2 separate regions of the Homo sapiens genome follow, and region 2 is linked to region 1. The links come from fine-mapping of genetic effects on gene expression. Tissue or cell type: whole blood. Region 1 holds a variant in brackets; the other region holds the start of a gene. All regions are shown on one strand. Distances are from middle to middle.

Region 1 (8,422 bases):
ATCTAGGTAAAGAACATGTCCTGCTGTCACACCGCTGAAGATGTCCCTGTGCAATCTCTTTCGTTGAGTCCTTATGAAGCTACAAGTCACAAATCCAAGATTCTGCTCCCTGAGGACACGTTATGTGAGACATAGCACTGTTTTAGTTTTCTGCCTATCCTGAATGCTCTGTGAAACTTAACCTTAAATACCATCACGTAACAATCACAAAAACTTTTGCTAAAGGCCGTATATACTAATAAAAAGACAGTGGTGCTTCGACATTCTGAAATGCTCTGGAAACCAACTTTTCCAATACTAAATACAACAAAATAACCTTCATAAAATATAACTTTTCTCCATTTACACTTTTTTAAAGGATTAGTATCCTATGCTTTTCAAGCACAGGAATCTGTGAAATAACTCCTAACATGGACAGATTTTCTTTTTAATACATAACTTAAGAGACTGGAGAGTTTTAACTCAAGTCCAGTCTCTAAACAAGGAATATTCTTGTTTACTTTAAAAATGGAAACAACATATAGTTCCATTATAATTGTTAAAAAGTTAGCTTTACAAACATGGGAATTTTAATTTAAAAAAAATTCTTAACAAAACTATACAGTGTACAAATTACTGTCTACAAGGTAGGCGGTTCATTAAGAAGACCTTTCGCTCTTCTCGCTACTTGCAGCTTCACAGATTCATTCACATATTTTTTAATGGAGCTGCCCACCCGAACATTACCCGATAACTATATTGCTATAATTAAGATTTTTGCCATGTCTTTATGTACAGTCTCCTTCACTGCCTTTTATTTTTTTCCTTAGACAAGCCTCAAATGCTCACGTCACTCCAGGGGTAACACGCTTCAGAGGCACTGTGAGTGGTGGGTGGCAGGGCAGCACACAAAGGCTGAACAGTGCCACGGAACTGATGGTTGGAGACACCACTCCCTACTCATGCCCTTGGGTGACCTTCGCCATCCTGAAGCTCTGCAGTTCTGGGTAAGGGAGGGGCGTGCAAGACCTGCAAAAGTGGGGCCCTTCGTCAGAATATACTTCCTGGTACACGAGGAGGAGGCCGAAAAGTTGATTTGAGATTTTATATATATAGTAGTACTTTTAATAGTTTTATCTCAAAAAGGAAAGAAGAAAAAATTGATTTGAAATAAAAAAAGCAACACTTGAACTAGGCCTTTGTATTCAAGAGGCAGGCAGGAATACCCACAGTGTGTAACTTGGTTAGCTAGAACTGCTCACTGGCAAAAAAGAGAGCGAGTCTGCCTTTAAAAAATACTGTGTGTCCTGTGAGGTTCATTTGTTCACCTAATAGGTCAAAGATACATGAAGAGCTTGGCTGAGATGATCTGTTTGCTACCAGGGCGAGTATCACAGAAATGATTGGACTTACTTTTGAACTTGCACTGCTAGGATCCCGCTGTGCTGTTCAGCATTTGGGCTATCAAACTGAATGGGCTAATCAAATACAATTCTCCAGCCCATAAGCATTGTTCTAAAGTATTCATTATTAAATGATATGCTGTGAGAACAATTGACAGTTTATTTTATTAGGCCATGGCCTAGGGGAAGGGGGCCAGGGGACTCCTTAAGACAGCCTACCATGTGTCACCAATTCTGAAAGATTTTCCTTCTAGTAATGAATACACTCAATGGGACTGGGCGGTGAGGGAAAGGCAAAATAAAACCAGCCTCCATTCAGCCTCTAGCCCTCAGGGGAAACGAAATCAAATATATAGTTAAGGTACCATTCCTTAAAAAAATCCCATCAGCATCTAATGGGTTTAATTCATCCACAGGAAGATTAATTGCTTAAAATTCTATATTTCCCTTCTGCTCTGGTTCTCAGTTTTAAAAGGGGAGATAAAATGAAAACAGGATTTACTTTTTTGTTCCTTAAAAATTGAACTTTGATTTTAATCTATCAGTCCAAATACATTCAACAATAGCAACCCTCTGTTCAATCTTCTGGATATTAAAAAAAAATCCAAGTGCACTGCCATCCATTTGAAGTAGTAAGTCACAGGTAAATCATATCCTATCATTAATGAAATGAAATGGGGACGAAAAGTGGCAGAAAAGGAATACGGGAGACTCCCTCCAACAGGTCTAATGTGTTTTCTAGGAGAAAGAATATTCATGTGTTAAACTCTCAAAAGTGTTAAACATCCAACATCCCCTATGTGGACATTTCAACAAATATTTTTGCCAAATATGAGACAGGCTCACTCTCCACTGTGGATCTGGAACTTTCAAGAAAAACTATCACCAAGCCAAGTCTGCCTTTTTAAGCCAAGTCTGCCTCCAGGAGAATTTGTTGTGTTTGCTTGTTCTTACTATTGTGTTGTTATGAAAACCAGTAATGAGTTCAGCTTGCAACCCAGGTGGGAAGTTAGAGAGGGGAACCTGTGTAAGTTGAAGTTTGTCACAGTAGGCAGAACAGTCGCTTTGCAGCCCAGGCCCATCTCAGGGTGCACTGCTTCACAGCTACACTGCAAAGTGTTAAAAATCCTCCCACCCACCCCAGAATATATATATATGTATATTAAAAAAAATCCCCTGTCCATCTCTCAGTACACAAAAGGACCTCATCACACTGCAAAAATAGCAGTACCCACTTTGGTCAATTAAAACAAACAAACAAACAAAAAAGCATACATTATTTTTTTTTTAAATCTGTGTACTTACCTATAATAACCAATACAGCTAAAAGCACTACCTACATAGGCAAAACTTGGTATTGCATAATTCGTATAAATTTGAAACCCCTCCCCCCCAAATATTAATTGGAAGATGAAAAACATGAAAGGTTAATAGAAAAAAACACCAAAATACTGAAAATATTGCTGGTCGATTACAATTTTTAAGCGGCAACTATACACAGCCATGATATGCTTTATAAATGTGAGATAAAGGTATAACTGTCTAAAAAATCCATGATGTCACACATTTTTCTTCGTCTGGAGTACAAAATATTTTGTCATAAAAATGGTAAAGATTTAAAATGATAATAAATGCAGCAAAACAAGTGTAGTGATGTCACTTTGTTGTATTTTTTTGTTTTTTTTTTTTTGTTTTTTGTTTTTTAGATTTCAAGGCAAGGCACGTAATGTGGACATTATATCTTCGTGCAAATTAGGATTACTGGAAAGAGTATTTTTAATTAAAATTTTAAGAGACATAGAGGCAAAATGTGTCTGCCCATGCACACTATGGATCTGTCAATACAAGAAATTTGTTGAACAAGGCTAATGTCTGAAAGCACCATGCAAGTTTTCAGCACCCTGATTACATTTGTTTTCTCAAGAGTGCGTTTTTATATCCTACACCCTGGCGTTCCCAGTTTGTAAACTGTAAGCTTTACCCTTGTGACATGGATTTGCCTGCCTCTTTGTCTCTATAATGCAGATTTTATAGAACCTTTTGTACACCCTATGGGTTCTTGATGCAACCAGTAATTTTAAATAAATAAATTCTACCTCCAAGGAGGCTGCAGCTAAACCAACATAAGTGCTGTGTTTTCATTAATTTTATTTTTCTCAAGCACATGATTTGTCTTGATTTAATGCCTTTTTAATGCCCTCAAAAACTGAGGGGAAAATAAATTCGTTCAAAATTATTTTAAATTCTTTTTAATCCCCTCAATTTAGAGTCCAAGGGCTGAAGGACTTATAATCATGATTCCCCTTTAGATATAAATTTATAAATTGCACTTGCCTCTGTTAAGTGTTTCTTTTGTGGGGAAAATATTATATTAATTTTTACTGTTGCATGCAGAGAGAACACTTCACCTACATAGAGGCATTTCTTCCATAGAGCCTTTGTGTTCAAACTGTTTTTTTCCTTTTTTCTTTTTTTCCTTTTTTTTTCATTTTTTCTTTTTTTAAGATTTCAAACTGGGTTACACACTGGAAAAGGCTGGGTTAAGGGCCGAAATTTAATAAATCTGTACTGATAACTAAAGGCTACAGAGATTTCATATATTTTTTTTAACTTTTAGAAATCAGAGTGCTTATAAAATGGCTGGCTCATGGCTCTGTCACCCAGCA[C/T]CTCTGACGCCGCCTCCTAGCCTTCGTTGGTGAGATAACCAGGAATAGTGATTCCATGCGTAAACAACAAGAATACTAAACCAATAAAACTAGCTTATCATGCAAATATTAAGGCATCTAGAAAGTCAGTTAAAATATATTGTCATAGAGACAGAACATCTATTTCCCAGCGGACTTCATGTAACAAAGGCTACGTTGCAGGGGCTGCGATCTACCATCAGTGAAATATCATCGACCCTTTTTATGTCATTACAGTTTCAACCTTAAGGGAATTAGTGATTGTAAGTGCTGCAATTGCTGGTCTATTATCTTCTTTCTTCAGTTTCTTTCCTTTCTGCCTTTGTGTTGTTTTGTCCAGTCTTCCTCTTTTCCTTTTTTTTTATTTAAAAAAAAAATTTCTTAAACTATTGTTGTGTTTCTTTTTCCCTCAGTTGCTTGTTTCTGCTTGAAGGAAAGGTTCTCCAATTATGTTCAAACCGTAATTTTGGACATTGGCCGGTAAGATGGGTGTCCTATTTGACACTTGGAAAGGAACCAAGCTAGCCCAGGTACCAGGACTGTTGAGAGGAGAGAGGCAGCAGGGAGGGAAGAAAAAAGAAAAAAATACAATGTTAAAATCTACAACAATATGAGAAATATAAATTCCAGATGCATCAAATTATTGCTATCCCTATTTTCAAAATTACAGTCTAATATGAGATAAATGTGCCAAATTATACATGTTACACCTATCTAAACTCTATAGTCTATTTTTTAAATGAAAATTAAGACTAAAGTGAGGCAGAAAAATCCAGAGTAAGATATATAAACAATTATTGAATTCTAACCGATTGAGGATATTCTAAAATATTTTACATTAATCAATATAAATGCAATATCATTCTTTTTTGTACAGGAAAAAAAAGAAAAAGAAAAGCAGCAATCTGTTGGTACCAATATACTTTGCCAGTTACATTCTAATCTTATTTTACCTTTAATTCACAAGCAATTCAGTGGTCAGATGGGTTTCAATTTCTTACCTGCCTATTGGGTTGAATACAATTGAAAAGTACGGTGAAAGATATTTCTTTTCTCCTTACAACAGGAAAAAAAACTACATGTTTAAGGTAGGCCCATGCATAACATACAATTTGAAATGCCCAATTATCAAACATACCTTAATCAGAGTTTTTTAGTAAAGACCGAACAAATAAGAATCATAGAACCAAAATGGAACACAGCTTTTTTTGTTCTCTACAGAATACCCATCGTGAGGAAAAACATTTACAGGAGGCCACAAAGGTCTCTGCTTGCACTGATTAGTTCTATAGCTCTCCAGCAGTTTTCTTATTCTAACCCTCTTTAACTTACTTTTAGAGAGAGCCACAGCTTTTCCTTCCAATTCATGGTTCCCTACATTGGCTTGCAACAGAAGCCTGAGCATTTCCTGCTCCTCCCCATCAGTAATGATACCACATTTGAGCTGCTCTGCACTTGAGGAGTTTGGAGTGATAGATGGCGGGTTGGGGGTTGGGGGTGTTGGAGGCAGTAAATGATAAGATTCCAGCCTTACTCTCATCAGTTCAACTTTCGCCTATGCTGAATTACAGGCTGTTAAAAAAAAAAAAAAAAGACTGGAAAACAATTCTCTAATTGCTACTAGCATAATCTCCCTTTAAAAAGTATCATATGGAGGATAAAAAAAATCAGATCTACATATCATGAAACAACTCTACAGCACACATTTTGGGTACACTTAATCTAATGTATTGCCTGTTCCAACACTCAAATCCGAATGAATGTCAGTTAAGTAACAGCTGCATAAATAATCATGAACCAAGAAAACATCAAACTGACAATTCAGTACTCATATTAGTCATGGCCTAGCATGGAAACATACTTTCGAGGTTTTAAATTTCACTGAACATCCTTTGCTTTACTTTTGAAACCATGAAGTGAGATAGCACTATTGTTGTAGCTATCAATCTAGATATGCTCATTTGTTCATATTTGAATTCCAAAAGTACAAAAACCTTTACAGAATATCAACCTAAAGGAACAATTCTGAATTTTTTTTAAAACTTGATACATACTGTTTTTACTCTGGTGATACCTCGATACAAAATGTTGCTTGTTGCTACACATACATATTTCTGAGTTAACATTTCAAAACAATATCACAACGACCATTTGTGCTCAAGGGATTTTATAATTAGACTACAAACTCAATGACAGCAAAGTCCGTCTCTAGTAAAGTACCTAGCACATGGAAGATGCTCAATACCTTTTTAGACAAACAAATCAATTAATTGTTTCAAATCACACCCAGCTATATATTTTCAAAAGCTGTCACCCAAGATTACATATACTCATGAATATGTTGTGATTTGATCCCCTATAAAAAGAAAATAGGTATCTCTGAATTTAAAATTAGATCTACTTAGCATTAACAAAAATTGATTAAGCAGGAATAATCACATTCAAACTAAAAAGACACGTCCTCAAAATCTGATGAAAAATCGTAACTCTTAAGAATACTTGTTATTGAAACTTTTACTAAGCAGCTTAACTGTTTTCACATATTTATCTTCCCACACACATCTTCAACAATTATTTTTGTGCTTTGCACCATTGATTGGGAACAATGTTACATAATGAATCATGAAACTTATTTTACCCTCAACTGTGTTTCCACTGCACTTTGTACATGGTCCTGTTACAGCATTTATTACTTCATAAATATCTCTATCTGGGATTATCTTACTAACTGAAAGGTGAACTTCACAGAGAAAACGACCTAGTCACATCTATCTTTATAGAGTCTGAGCATAGCTGGTGCTATTTCTTAACAAATAAAATAAATTACAAAAATGGTTATACATTATTTTTAACTTGAAGTAAGAAGCATGTACCAAAAGCAAAAGGACTAGGTAAAGCAGATAATCCTTGACAGTAAAATACAATGTCAACAAGCAGCAAATTGCTTTGCAAAATTAACAAGAGTGCCAAATTAAGTGAGCTCAAGAAAGTCATTTGGAGATTGCATGCTTTAGGGATATAAAGTATATTTTAATGATTGAAAATAGATGTGGCTCCTTACATGGACAAGTCTACCAACTAATGGCAGAAAACTCAGGGTTTATTTTGCAATAGCTCTCTTACTCAGTTCTTTAGAAGAGACATATGTCATTATTCTTTGGAAAATGTTCAATAAAAATAAATTGATGCTAGTAACTAACAGGACTCTTGCTGCAGAATGCCTACCAAATTTAATTTAAATGTTTATTTAAATCTTTCAAACCGCCCATCCTACATTATGACCATATCAAAATTGCAGAGTGCAATATATTTGTCAATACTGTTTATGAACCTTTGGGGGAAAATAAATCTCAAACATTAACACTATGCAGACCCCATATATGAGTTTTACAAGTCTCTTATTGCCAATTTAAGTTCAGAACTATAAGGCACAGACATTTTTTAGAGCTATTTTTGGTAGTCCTGTTAAAAAAAAAAACTTGATAAAACTAATTCAATGACTGAGATAACAATGTAAATAAATATATTTAATTAAAGTAATACAGATTATTTAATTTCAAAAATGCAATGTCTAAAATTGCATACTTACTCAGGTAAAAATGTAATAGTGCTTTTTATACATCTAACTCTATATAAAAATCAATAATCACATGTATGGATAAAATAAACACACAAAAACAAATTAGTTACATGTAAAATGCTTAATAGTTTTAATTCATAGTGAGAATTACTATATGGATAATCTTATGTTCATTCCAACTATCTGCATTCCAATAAAAGAAATGAGAATATAACTGAAAGGATTTCAAAATATTCAAGCTCAAATTCAGCTACTTCAGCAATATATCTTTATAAGTGTGCATTTCCTTTGTTTTAATCAAATTTTTCATTACCAAATCACATTTGTTTAGGCAAAGAGAAGATGAGCATAGCTGAAAGTTGAAAGCACATCTTTAGAAAATATAAAGTAGATATAACCATTTAAAAAAGAAAAGATATAATTACTTTGCAAAAAAATCAAGCAGAAAAAAACACAAAAGAATTTGATAGTACCTTAACACAAAGTACAGCTCATCCTAATGACTATTACTATGCATATAATGAGATAGTTCATTATAAAATGAATACATAAGAGCTAAATCAAAATTCCAAAAATAAAATGTTTGATATCATGGATACTATTTTCTTGCTATTTTGACCAAATGTATGACATGGCTCCCCCCAAAAGGGAAGAAGCAAATGAATTATTTAGAGCTTAAGATGCATTACTGGTGATGGTCCTGCTTCATTTTGTTATTGGTAAGACTACCTCTGAAGTACTGTATTTCTTCTAGGTAGCACTGTGGAAGAAAACCT
Region 2 (8,422 bases), 230 kb after region 1:
CTGATGATTACATCACAGCATGAGGCATACCCAAATGCCATAGAGGAAATCATTAAACCGATCAGTAGTTTCCAGCAGAGATTTGAACAATTCAGTTACTATGCGAGCACATTAAACTAGGCCATGGAAAGAGTTAAACCACAATCTGTTCTTTGTGTGGGAAGGCAGCCCTGCTCACAGCAACCACATCCCATGATAAGACCTCCCTATCTCCATACACTTTCTGATGCCATGCTTTTAGCTTTCACTGTAACTACAAAAACTTTGTTTATCCCCTTTAGGAATATATGCAAAAGGAAAGCCTGCTCAAGGAAATGTGGACTTAAATGTGCTTTGGAAACTCACTTCCTATAATCTTTTACTACGATTTATTGATATGACTAAAAAACACACATATATGCACTCACAAAACTAAAACCTTGAGAATGTAAAGAGCACATGAGGTGGAGTGGGTGGGCTCTGTCTCACTCATTTTACCCTTGCCATGCTTTTTAAAATGCAATATTATTTTATAAATATTAAGCCATGTGGTAACACGTAAGTACTTACACCTTAAGTACTATGTTCAGTGACATTTCATTTTCTTATAAAGACATCAAACACAGTTTTGATTAAATTTGAGTTTCAATATTTGATTATAAATATAATCTATCACACAAGAAAGCTCAAAATTTTAATGAGTTATTTTAAACAACCAAAATTCAAATTTGAAGGTTGAATTTGAAAATTCTTAGCAAATGCACACAGTTTTTAAACGTTCCTTTGACTTTGCTGTCAATGCTGCCAATATTGTTTTAAAACATGCTCTTTTTTTTGAGAAATAAAAGTAGCAAACTTTCTCAGGCTGCCAGTTTGCCTTATTGATATCGTTCAGGGTTTCACTATTATGTGAATTCAAGTGAAGCACTTATTTGACAAGGGGACATATCCTCCAAAAATGACTGTAAATTGAGGTTTGCTGTAAGTCGCATATATTTCTGTATTAACATGCCTAAATGTCATCTCCCAAGTGTGACTGTTTCCTAATGCTGAGTAACACTAGAGTCTTAAAGATTATGAGTGACATGAATATGGAACATAATAACTGTCCTGATACAAAAATATTTTTTTAAAAGGTGATTAAGGTTTTCAAATATCCTAACTAGTAGTGGATTATTACAATAGCATTAAGCAATCATAAATTCTTTAAAAAAAGCAAAACATATAAGTGATTTAAAACCAAACAACTGTATACAAAGGTAATAGGCAACTTTGCTCTTTCAGAATTTTTAGTAAAATGCATTGATGTTCAGTAATTCTCTTTTAAAACTTCCTTTAGTTGAACTAAATTGACAAAGTAAATAACAAAGTTACCAATTTCAGATATAAAAATAAAGAGTCTTAATTCCACTAGGCATATTTATTTTTCTTCCGTTTCCATGAAAGGGATGGATAATTTAGACCAACATAGAGGTAGAAGAGTAAATACTAGGTGCTCTTGGCGCATTGCTATATAACAACAAATCATGCAAAAAATGTACCTAAAGAACTTAAAAGCAACGAAAGAAAAATATATTTAATGCCATCATGCCAATTGAAAGTTATATTATTAATGGTTTACATTATTTTTAAACATATATTAAATCATATGATAGTTCTTAATTTTTCCTTTATATCTGATTTATACTGGTGTATAAATATTGGTTATTGATATGCTGATTTTGTAGCATACTATTTTGCTAAACATAACATTTAATGGTAGGTCCTTTTAAATTAAGATTTTTTTTCTAAAACCTAGATACCTTATTGCAACAATTGAGATACTTTTAAAAGTTTATAACCAATTAAGAATGATACTCTATTTTGCAATTTACATGTCCTGAGACATGTTTTTCTACAGCTACTAGGCTCTTGTGATACAAAACTACTGATCTGATACAAAAGTGACACTATTAATGTGGCCTCACTTTTATAACACCTATATTACCTGCAAAGTCACATGGAGCTTAGTGAAGTGAAAATTCTTAAGCTGAAATTCCTTCCCTGGTGTAGGCCTTGTTTTAATACATAAGCCTAGATTTATATTATTAAAATAGTAGAGAATATTAGTCATCACAAGTTATTGTTGTTAAGTGTGTATCTCTGAATACTAATGTGATAGCTGAATGATTATGCTGTATATGATCCCAACATTCCCTGTCTCAATGCTGCAATATTATCTTTAACTTACACAAATTAAGATAAAACTAGTGACTTTTCAATACATATTTGGAGGATACTAAAAATGCAATGTAATTGCTAGCAATGTTTCTGAAAAGCTGATGTTAGAAATATAGAGAAATGCACAATTATTCAATCTTTTACAGGTGAGAATAAGTGATGCTATACTCTGTAAGTGAAAATCTTGCTTTGATTTGTTTTATTTGATCACGGTGTAAAAATAATATCAAGTTAACACAGCTTATCAGAAAGAGAAAAATATATCCAGCCGATGGGTAATATTAATGGTAACTTTTACAAGTAAAGGCAATTCGTTATACCTGAAACAGTTTCATCATATTTATTGGCTATTATCATTCATGGCTTTTAAAATACAAATAGCTCAGCAACTCATTTTTCCAGTTTTGTTAAATTAAAGTGCGTGTTTACTTGCTGAAAATAGCCATATCTAAGTTAATCATACTCAGATGCCAAACAAAATATAAACAATAAAAAATGTGTCAGCCAAAAAGCTACAGGACTGTATCCAATCACTGAATAAGCCTTATCATTGTTTTCATCTTCATTCACAATTTATGAATGCCTCAGTCCTTTTGAATCACAATGGCTTCTAATTGTCATACAATTGAAATCTTAATTATTTGTCCATTATAAAAATGCATCATCGTGATATTAGATGTTTTTAAAATTTTAACACGCCCAAGACTGGCTGACACTTCTTTATATGACTAGTTTTCATGGCAATGTCAAAGAAAATAGTTATCAATTACCAATGGTGACACATCTTCCGAAAAGCTGAAATAAGCTGCCCCATACCTTTAGAGGTTTAAAATACTGCCTCAAATAACAGTTCTGGGCTAAGATATTTTAGTTACTTTGTCAGTTGTTAGTTCCCTGGGCAGCGATGAAAACTGCCCCCAGGTAAGTCTGTTGGGTCTCGCCGCTTTTCTATTTGACCGTCTGGCTTAAAGTGATACAAATCGTGTTTCTAAAAAGTATAAAACCAGTGTTTTATTTCATAACATTATTCCTAAGGTCTTAGGACAATTCTCAAAGTCGAAAAAAATGACCTTACTTCTACCAGCATTACTTAAAATGCCTTACGAGCTACGCCCAAATATCGTCAAATGAACAGGTTTCCACAAAAGGAACACGTTCTAAAAACTCCTTAACAATCACCAAGACCAACTAACTCGTGTCAACGTAAATACTGCCTTTGTGGTGCGGTCACTAGAAACCCCAAAGTGCAGCAGGTCACTATGGACCAGGGTTTCAGATCCCCAAATAAAGCAAAGGAATGGGTCCCCGGACCACAACCTCCGACTCGATTCGTCGCCCGCCCACCGCCTGCAGCGCAGTCCAGCGGCGCCCACACAGACTCGTGCTACAGTCCCCTCGCCCAAGTTCACTGGCTGTTTTTAAAAGCTTAGTCCCCCGTAAAGTCCTCCAAAGCCCGAGTCCACCTCAACGCGCGAGCTGCTGAGAGGGGCTACGGGCACCCCGGGCGGGGATGCCGCACCACAACGGGCACTTGAGGGGCCGCACGGGGCCTCGCACTTACAGGTCCCGGCCCTGCCCACCCCCCGGCGGCCTTGCCCGGCCCAGCGCCCGCGCTCCGTGCCCAGGGCGCGGGGCTGGGCGCTCGCAGTGGCCGTGGCGAGGGGCCGCTCCCGGCTCCCACGCCGCCCCGCGACGCCCGCTGCAACTCCGGGCCACTTCTCCAAGGGACGGGGATGTGCGGAGGTTAACTCAAGCCGCTAATTGTCCGCAACAAAACAAAACAAAGGCATTTCGGGCCAGAGAGAAAGCTCGAGAAAGCGACCGAGACATGTACCTGAGTGAGACAGATGGGAGAATACATCATGACTTCGCCTTAAAACGCACTTTCCGGGAGATGCCCAAGAAAATCTTCGAGAAGCAAGAATTTCATCTATTCATTTTACAGTCATCTGAGCCCCGCGATGCGATCAATCAGGACGGGGCTCTGCGCTGGATCACCGCAACTTCACAACAAACCCAGTCCTCCTTAAATAGCCAAAGATTCAAGTTCACTCGGCGTGCTAGATTTCCAGGGGTGAAATCCAATCTACACTTTTAACCCTCTTGCAGTCCGAGCGCGCTGGCCGTGCTTGCCGAGGCCGCCGCCGCCGCCGGTGTTGGCTGCTTTTCGCCTGGGTTTGGGGATTTGTTTTCTATTTTGCAGTTGTTGTTGTTGTTGGGGTGTAGGGGGTGCGCGAAGGTTCGGTGTGGGTTGGATTGGGGTGGTGGTTGGTGGTAAAATGCTTTTTCAAAAAAGGCGGGGAGGGGGGCGCGGGAGGGCGCAGGAGGGCGAGCGGGCGGGCGGGAGGGAGAGCGGGGAGAATGTGTCACCGCGCTGGGAAAGTTCAAGGTTACAGCCCCAAGCACTGCGGCAGGATCCCGGAGTGGTGATCGCAGGCGAAACTTTGCCGCGAGCCGACCATGTGTGTGCGCGAGGGGCAGCGTGAGCGAGTGCGCGCGGGTGGCGGGGCGCGCGCGGGAGAGGGCCGGGGTGGGGGCGGGGTGGGATGGGGGAGAAGGGAGAGGCCGGGGTGAGGGAGGGGGCGCGAGCGCTGATCTCTGGGGCGGAAGAGGCTCGCGGCGCGTGGTCCCCGGCAGCAGCAGCCGCCGCCGCCCGCGCCGGGTCTTCGGCGCCCGGCCGCCCGCCCGCCCGCCTCGCCCCGCGTCTGACCCGGCCGAGCGTGGAGGCTGCTGTTGCCGCCGCTGCCCAGAGCCCAGGGGTATCAAAACGATCTCCTGAAAAATTCCAAACGATAAATCCCGCTCTCCCGCTCGGCTCCAAACTCCTCTCTTTTCTGCTCTAGGCTCTTTTTTTTCCCTCCCTCTCTTGCTTTCTTTCGTTGCAAAACTTGGAAGTTGAAAAATTCACCGGTTCCACCCTCTGGACCCCGCTCGAGCTCTCTCCAAATCAGACTTAAGGATTGTTTTATTATTTAATTACACAATCATCGCTTTACTCCTCCTCCTGCAAACGCGCATTCCTTTTGCACCAGCCTCTCCACACCCCCCGCCCCCCCACCTTCCTCCTCCTCCTCCTTCTCCTTCTCTCCCCCCACCTCTCCCTCATTTGTTAAAGGTATCCTACCGGTGCTACAGAACCATGACTTTTTTTTTTTTTCCAAAATAGCTCTTCTTTCCGCTGCCCTCCCCACACCAGCACACACATACACACCCCCGAAAACCCGCCCTGGAAGAGGTATTTCGGTGCTCGCTGCGGACTCTTTTAAGCCGCGGGAACATCCGAGTGGGAGAAGCACCGAAACCGTCTGAGCCCGAGAAAGGAACGAGTGGAAAATTCCCTCACACCCAGGCCGCCCCCAGGCCGGGGCTGGGGCGCGGACACTCGCACCCGGGGCGGGCTCAGTCCGCGGAGCCTGCGGCTGCCGGGAAAAGGGGGAGGCCGAGCAGGCGGGGACCTGAGCGAACTTGGGCTCAAGTAGTTGGGGCGCGCCGGCGTGGACCAGGGGGGTGCGGCGCCCAGCCCCCGACGGCCCCGCCCGGAGCCCGGGTTCGCGGATAGGGAGGGGGTGCGGGTTCGTCCCGGGTCTGCCCACCAGGGGCCCGCACCCGAGGCAGTCGCGGCGCGCGGCGCTTCGCCGCGGTTTGCCGCCCTCCCCGGGGGTGCCCCGTGCACGTGGCCTCGCTCTGAGCGGGAGGACCGGGCCGAGCCGCCGCCGCCGCCTCTTGCTCCCTCCACCTCCTCCCCGCGCCCGGCTTCGCTCTCCTCCTCCTCCTCCTGCAGCCCCGCTGGCTGGCTCCCAATCCCCACCCCCCGGGGCCCGGGGCGCCGGCGGAAAGCGTCTCCCTACCCGCCCGGGTGCAGGCGGGGCGGGGCCGCGGCGCGCCCGGGGCTGCGGGGCGGGCCGGCGGGCGCGCGCGCGCCGCTGCAGCCCTCCAGAGGCTGCGGGCCCTGAGCCGCTCGGCGCCCGCGCCGGCTCCCCACCGCGGCGCTGCCCCGCCCCCACCCCGTCGCCCGTGCAGGCTCCGAGTGAATGAACTTGATTCCAGGGATTTTGAAGAAGGCGGTTCGCCTTGCACCCTTTCTGCACCCCCCGCCCACATACACACACCGCCCCCCAAATCCAGTTTTCTGCTTGGGGTGGATGGGGACGAGGGGGAAGCAAAGGCCTCCCAGACAATGGAGGGAGGAAAAGTGAGCGCCTGGGGCTCCGAGTCTACCTAGCTGGGGGATCCGGGGGGCGCTGGGGCTACCGGGTCCTCGCGGGCCCATCCCCAGGGCGGGGCCGCCCCGCTTCCACGGGTACTGCTGGGGCGTTTCGAGGCTCGCCCCCGATTCCCCGGTCCTCTTTCCACCGCTTCCCAGCTCGTGATCTGTCCCCTCAACTTTAGCCCCTCTCACTCCCTCTGGTTTCTGTCCACCGTCCCCTCTTCCCTCCCCCAGCGGACCTGGAGGAACCAGTGACTTTTTCCTTCACCAAGTGGGAGTTATCCACATCAAGCATTTCACAACGACACATCAAGAAAAGTAGGCAGGTTCAAGTCAACCATGAAATGGTCACTTTTTAACCCCGTCCTGTCCTCATTAGGGAAATGCTCAAACACAGTCCGTTTTCAAAGAGCGCTCTTAATGAGGCGAGCTTGCCAAGTTTACCAGCTGCAGCCCCCGTAAACCCAGAGCCCAAAGAAGAAAGGCGCTGGGGGGTGGGGAGTTCGGGAGGCCGGGGACGGGGGCTGCTGGGACTAGGAAGACAGGTAAAGTCGGGGAGATCGCGCGGACCCCTGCGAGTTAACCCTTTCGGCCACACGCCCTGGGAGCGGCCTCCCTGCGGTCCCCGCCCCTGCCCCGGCAAATCCTGGAGTCAGCGTTCTGACAACGTTAATTTCCTTTGTGCGGGTCATTTCTTCTTTTTGAAAAGCTGGGATAAAGTTGGCAGTCTTTATGGATGAAAGAAATGAGGTGACAGGGTTAATCCAAGTAAATACTCATTTCTCTCAGAAATTTTAGGCAACCTCATCTTAGATTAAACACACACAGACACACACACACAGAGAAACCACCAGCACGAAAGCATCACTTTGTATTGCACATTACACTGCATCCCCTTTCTCACCCTCACCAGATTCTGAGGGGAGGGGGTGGGGAAGCTCTACTGATAATACCAGCTTTAACTACTGCAGTTTCCCTTTGAACAAATATTCAATTTAACTGGAGTTAATTTACCATAAAAGACATTCCCCTTGGCAGGAATGCACTAATATCCTTGAACACACCTCTTTGAATGCCTGGACTCTCATAGAAGCCATTATTTCGGGGTCTCTTTAAAAATCGAGCGCCCATCTCTCCTTCTCTCCCTCCCTCCCTTCTTCCCTCCCTCCTCACCACACCACCCCCAGTGAAATCCTGGCACCCAGAGAGCACTCCTTTCAGCCTGAGAGCCCAGAACCAGCCGTTGTCCCCTGGCAAAAAGAGGCCCAGGGCTGAGCCCTGGGCAAGTGTCTCCCGACATCGCTACCCCTCCTCCCTTTATTAGTTTCCCTTTCCCAACAGAAACCATTTCCTTCTGCCACCAAAACTAGGTTGCATCCAAAAGTTTTTCACAAGCTTAAAAAAGAAAAACGAAAAATTGACAAGTATTACACAGAAGAGCCCACAAAAGCTTCAGCAACACCAAGGGCGAAGAAGCAGCGTCAGATCCAGGTAAGACCCCAGAGAAGTGAAGACGTCTGGGGCCTCCCAGGCCCATCACTTAGGGGTTCAAATCTCTTTCAATTGCCCCACGTTTGAGGGTGCTTATGGCTGGTTGCACTTTGATGACCATAGAGGATGCTTGATAGTTTTTGGTTTTGATTTGTTTCCCAGAAAAAGGAAAATGAGATAGGAGTATGGTGAGGCGAGGAAAACCAAAAAGGAATGAAGAGTGAGCAACAGAGACTTCCTGAAAAAGAAGGTTTATGGGGGTGCTCAGTTTCTATGGCTTTGACTGTCTTCTCAGGCCTTGCAGCCATGTGGAGAATGGCTGACACCCCCCAAAACACTTCTTCTTGTCCAGCCAATGCCAAGGTCATTGCAGGCCTTCCCTGGAAGAACTCTAGGGAGTTGTTTGGAAAGAGGGACTGGTGGATTTCGGTGCATGGGATGCCTGGCTTCTCTTAACACAACACTTGTCCACCACCTTTGGTTTGAAAATCTCAATCTTTTAAATCCCAGGTAGAAGGAGGAACT

The links. PIP is the estimated chance that this variant, and not a neighbour inherited with it, causes the effect.
Region 2: it holds the start of NFIB, and the variant in region 1 is fine-mapped to the expression of NFIB in whole blood (INTERVAL, PIP 0.98).

The regions. Positions count from the first base shown.
Region 1 is chr9:14,083,722-14,092,143 of GRCh38, forward strand. It overlaps NFIB (nuclear factor I B), which reads right to left. Exons shown (of 11, transcript NM_001190737.2): 11 at 1-4,605. The coding sequence ends at 4,588. Among named protein-coding and RNA genes, the nearest start is that of LINC00583, 160 kb to the left of the region's middle. The variant C/T (reference allele first, on the strand shown) is at 4,049.
Region 2 is chr9:14,309,449-14,317,870 of GRCh38, forward strand. It overlaps NFIB (nuclear factor I B), which reads right to left and starts at 4,693. Exons shown (of 11, transcript NM_001190737.2): 1 at 4,034-4,693. The coding sequence starts at 4,063. NFIB-AS1 (NFIB antisense RNA 1) reads left to right here and starts at 7,639. Exons shown (of 2, transcript NR_186536.1): 1 at 7,639-7,897. RefSeq lists a silencer at 4,102-4,396.